Regions from separate parts of the Homo sapiens genome. Here region 1 is linked to region 2. Evidence: fine-mapped expression QTL. A gene starts in region 2. The other region holds a variant in brackets. All regions are shown on one strand. Distances are between the middles of the regions.

The links. PIP is the estimated chance that this variant, and not a neighbour inherited with it, causes the effect.
Region 1: its variant is the best candidate, but not a certain one, in a credible set for the expression of TIGIT in whole blood (INTERVAL, PIP 0.81).

The regions. Positions count from the first base shown.
Region 1 is chr3:114,182,410-114,185,326 of GRCh38, reverse strand. It overlaps a transcript of DRD3 not described here. Among named protein-coding and RNA genes, the nearest start is that of DRD3, 4.8 kb to the right of the region's middle. The variant A/C (reference allele first, on the strand shown) is at 1,425.
Region 2 is chr3:114,292,590-114,295,429 of GRCh38, reverse strand. It overlaps TIGIT (T cell immunoreceptor with Ig and ITIM domains), which reads right to left and starts at 1,402. Exons shown (of 4, transcript NM_173799.4): 1 at 1,308-1,402. The coding sequence starts at 1,368.

The DNA of each region.
Region 1 (2,917 bases), 110 kb after region 2:
ATCAGTCTGAGGAACAAAAAGAAAAACGATTGAAGAAAAGTGAACAGAGCCTAAAAGACATAGGAGACACCATCAAGTGAACCAACTAACACACTGTGACAGCACCAGAAAGAGAAGGGCTAGATAAAGGGTAAGGAGAATATTTGAAGAAATAATGGCAGAAAAGTTTCTAAATCTGATGAAAGACATAAACATCCAAGAAGCACAATGAACTTCAAGATGAACCCACACCAAGACTCACTATAATCAAACTTCTGAAATATAAGGACAGTGAATTATGAAAGCGCAAAAAAAGAACTGATTCATCATATGCAAGGGCTCTTTGGTAAGAATATTAACAAATTTCTCATGAGAAACTTTGGCCCATCAGGTAGTGGGACAACGTATTCAAAATGCTAAAAGAAAAAAATACCTGTCAACCAAGAATTTTATATCAGAACAATTGTCCTTCAAAAGTGAAGGAGGTCAGTTGCAGTGACTCACACATATAATCCCAACATTTTGGGAGGCCAGGGTGGGCAGATCACTTGAATTCAGGAGTTCGAGACCAGCCTGGCCAACATGGCAATACCCTGTCTTTACTAAAAATGCAAAAAATTAGCCAGATATGGTGACATGCACCTGTAGTCCCAGCTACTTGGGGGACTGAAGCAGGAAAAGAAGGAGAACATAAGACATTGCCAGATAAACAAAAGCTGAGGAGCATTACCACATTACCACTAGACTTTCCCTGCAAGAAATATTCAAGGGAGTCCTACAAGGTGAAATGAAAGGACATTAGACAGTAACTTGAAGCTGTATGAAGAAACAAAGAGCTCAATAAATGCAAGGACCTTTATAAAAGCTAGTAGTATTTTGCTATCTACATAATTTAAGAGACTAATACATTTAAAAGAAAACAATCATTAGTCTAAAAGCTAACATTATTGTAACTTTGGTTTGTGGCTCCATGTTTTGTTTTTTATATAATTTAAGAGACTAACGCATTTAAAATAATTATTAGTTTATGTTTGGTGTTACACAATATATAAAGGTATAATTTTATGACATTAACAACCAAAAAGAGTGAAGAAAGAATAGTAGAGGACCAGATATTTTATGTTATTGAAGTTAGACTGGTATAAACTCCAGTTAGAGTATTATAACTTTAGGATGTTAAATGTAATCTCCACTGCAACCAAAAAGAAATAGTTAAGGAATATAAACAAAAGGAAATAAGAAAGGAGATTAAACATTTCACCACAAAACATCAACTAAACACACACAAAAAAGAGTCATGCAGAGTGAGATGTGGGAAAGCTATAAGGCATATAGAAAACAAATAGCAAACAACAGAAGTAAGTCCTTCTTTATCAGTAATTTCTTTAAATGTAAATGGATTAAACTACCCAATCAAAAAACAGAGATCAGCAGAATGGATAAAA[A/C]ACACATGATTGCTGGATATACTGTCTACAAGAAACTAACTTTAGATCCAAAGACACACACAAAAATAATAAAAAAGAGAAAAAGAAAACAAAGATACAATAGGTTGAAAGTGAAAAGATGGAAAAGGATATTCATGCAAATAGTAACCAAAAGAGAGCAGGAATGGCTAGACAAATATCAGACAAAAATGAATTTAAGTCAAAAAATTATGAAATAAAAAAGGGTATTATATATTAATAAAATATTTAATACAACAAGAAAATAGAGCAATTTTAAACATTAACATGCCTCATAACAGACGATCAAAATACATGAAGCAAAAACTGGTAGAATTAAAGAGAAAAATATACAATTCTACATTAATAGTTGGAAACTTTAACATTCCACCTTCAATCACAGATAGAACCACCAGACAGAAAATAAGTAAGAAAATAGAGGATATAAACAACACAATAAACCCACTAGACCTAAAAGACATATACAGAACACTCTACCCAACAACAATGATATGCACATTCTTTTCAAGTACACATGGGACATTTTCCAGGATGGGCCATATGTTAGGCCACAAATTGTGTCTCAATAGATTTTAAAAGACAAATGTCATACAAAGTCTTCCCTGATCATAATGGGAGGAAATTAGAAATCAATAACAGAGTAAAACTGGAAAACTCACATATTTGTAGAAATTAAACAACACACTTTTAAAGAATCAGTGGATCAAAGAATAAATTACAATGGAGGCATAATGCTCTTGAGGATGTGAAGATATTGGAACACTCATGCACTATTGATGGGAATGTAAAATGATACAGCTGCTGTGGAAAACAGTATGGTAGTACCTCAAAAAATTAGAAACAGAATTACCACATGAACCAGCAATTCCATTTCTGGATATATATCTAAAAGAGCTGAAAACAGGATCTCAAAAAGATATCTGAACACCTATGTTCATAGCAGTGTCATGCACAATAGCTAAAATGTGAAAGTAATTTAAGTGTCATCCATAGATGAACAGAAAAGCAAAATGTGGTACAATTGAATATTATTCAGCCTTGAAAAGAAAGAAAATTCTGACATATACTTCAATATCAATGAATTTTGAGAACATTATGCTAAGTGAAATAAGCCAGTCTGAAAAAGACAAATATAGTAGGATTCCACTTATATGAGGTACTTAGAGAATCGCTTAAACCTGGTAGGCTGAGGTTGCAGGGAGCCGAGATTGCACCACTGCACTGCAGCCTGGGTGACAGACGGAGACTCTGTCTCAAAAAACAGAAAAAGAAAAAAAGAAAAAATTAGATGATGATGGAGGGTAGTAAAAAACAGGAAGAAAATAGGTCGAAAAGTTAAGATAGAAGTAGAAAAGGGAGGTAACATGCAAGCACACAGAAGGGTAGATGCAGATATAAAAAACCACTATCATTTATTTATTTCCTTCCTTACTATTACTCTGCTACCTATAATGAGTGATTTGGTACAAATCTGA
Region 2 (2,840 bases):
CCAGTCCATCCTGTTGCTCCTCCATAGAGGCTGTAATTATTTCCTGTTTCTTCCATTTCAAGAGACGCTCCTCTCCATGCCTGTTATTCAAGGCTCCCAGTCCCCCATTCAGGTTGTCTTTCCAGTCTTCTCACCCTTCTCCACACATCTCTACTCCAGCCCAGCCCAGCCCATCTCCTCCCCACCCACTGCCCTATGCTTCCAGAGCTGACTTCTGCCCCTCTTTACACCTCGCCCACAGGGAGGCTTGTCAAGGCTGCACTCCCTCCCCGCCTCCTAGAAGACCTCAGCCCATCTCAACCTCCCTTTTCCTTTCACATTCACTGCCTGTATTGTATAATTAGCACCTTACTAAATGCCTGGCTTATGACTACACAACTTAGCACGTTGCCCCCTCGCATATTCTGCTATGTAGCTTCATGGCCAGCTTGTTATTTTCGTAGGCCTATTTTGTCTACCCACTTAGAATATAAGCCCTTGTCAGCTGATACCACCTCTTCTGTTTTTATTTTGTTTTGTTTTTATGTTTCTTCCTGCGGCCTAGTTCTATGCTGGATGCATTATCCTTTGAAATAAAACCTTGCTGTTTGGTTGATTGTCATTTGCAGTGCCTGAAAAAACCTTCAGGAAAGCCAAGAAATCCAATAGCAAAGGAAGCTTAGCAGGAAACCCTGCTTCTCCCAGGCATAACCACCCTCTCAGCACTTAACCTCTCCCCAGCAACCCTGGGCACATCTCCATCCTCAGATAGTTCAGAAGGCAACATAAAAACTAATTTATACCACAGTTTTTAAATATTTGTGTTCCCCTCCCTCAGAAATATTTGACTCTGATTTTTAATATAGAAGAAATAAATTTAACAAAAAATCAGTCTCTAGTGGTAGAACCTCTGGAATCTGTGAAAAAGACATTTTCAATTCACAGAGAACTTATAATGTTTTCCTGGAAAGTTCCTGAAAGGCAACAGAAAAGAAGCTGGAGCAGGAATGAGCTTCTAAAAGCAAACTGGCAATGCCTCCTGCCCAGCCCTTCTTCTTCTCCTGCTCCTTCTTGTGCTGGCCAGTCAGGCTCCTCCAACCCCGGAAGTCTGCAAAGTCCTTCATCTGCCACCAAAAACAGAACCCCACCTCATTCTCAGAGATTGTCCTTTCTTAAATAAGAGTACACAGGACTCTAAAAGTTGCAATTTCTTTCTCTCAAGCAGCTGTGGCATGCTCTTGGAGTCTTCCCTACACAAGCACCCAAGTCTCCAACCAAGCTTAGCCTTGTTTTTCCTCCCTGCTGCTCTGCTGGGTTTCAGGCCTTACCTGAGGCGAGGGGAGCCTGCCTCAGCCCCTGGGCCCAGATCAGGAGGAGACACCAGCGCATGCTTCTGCCCAGAGGGCCTACAGGAAGCAGATGTGGCCTCTTCTGCCACTGAAAGTAGCCGACTGCAGATAGGACGGTAAAACTGAGCCTCTGAGAAAAGACGGTCTCGGAAAAACCAAGTTTGGCAAAAACCATATTAAAAACACATAAAGTTGTCAACAAATACACAAACTGCATAGGGTGAGCCACAAGAAAGGCCATGAAGGAAACATTTAAAAATAAATGAAAATTGTGGTTAGAGGTACACTCGTCTTTGGATTATAGTCAATCTATTGTTTTTAAGTTCTGTCTTAATGTTTTTTCTAAAAATCAGCCTTTATTCAAAGAGCTCAAGGGCATCTGTGTAGTGCCCAAGATTCTGAAGAATCTGCTACTGATGAGGAACTGTTGGCTGAGCTCCTCTGGCATCCTCCTGATGAAGAATGTGCAATGATAAGAGAAGCTTATCATTGTAGGGACTTACAGGCCAGGGACTGCACTTGAAATCTAATGAACAGGTGAACAAGAAGTGTTTACTTGGGGGATGATACATGGATGGGACAAAGGTCTTGGACAAACACAGCAACTTTCCCTTGAAGGAGATCTTCTACTCGAATCTTATTTCTTTTGTCTTGTTTATCTGGACTGAGACTTTATTGAATTCTGGCTTGATTTCTCTGGTGCAGTAGGATCAGAGGAGATTAGAGGAGAGAGCTTTCCTGTGCACAATGACCTCATGAGAGCTGGAAATGCAAAGAAGGGTGAGCCCCTGGGAGCTGACCCAGGAGAGGGATTGGTTGACATTTGCCTGGAGCTCCCAGCCCATCACCAGGTCCTACTATGGACCCATCCTTCTTTCCTCCCTCCCTCCCTTCATTCATTTGAAAGTCCCTGGGTGCCTACAAAGCACCAACCTCAACACCAGGCTCTGAGGATATGAGAGTAAATAATCACAGCCCCTACCCTCAAATAGTTTACAAAGCTTGTTCCTTGGTGAACTCAGTCAGGAGAGGGGGTAGAAGATCCACATTCACCTGCCTCGCAGGCTCTCAACACAGTTGCCTTGGGGATGCTCCATGTTGTACATCCTGAAAATCTGCATCTGCACCCAGAAGCATCTGAAGCCTGGTGCCCCACCCCCTCCATTCCAGCCATGCACCTCTAGCATTTCACACCATCCAGGCTCCTACCCTCCTTCTCCCTTGCAAGGTCTTCTATCTCAGGCCAGTTTTCTCCCCTCTCTGGGTTCTGCCTATCCCCAACTCTATGACTTGTATACCCCTTATACCCCACCTCCAGACCCTTAGACAATATACGCCTTACCAGCTTCTCTCTGCCTACCCAAAGCAACCTGTCCTTCAAGGCTCACATCAAGAGATGCCTTGCCTTTCAATAGCTACAAAGCCTTCAGCTGAAGGAGAAATAATACCTAATGTGTGTCCAAGGGAAGGTGCCAAGGTTGAACTGGAGGGATGTTTCCCAAACTCACTAAG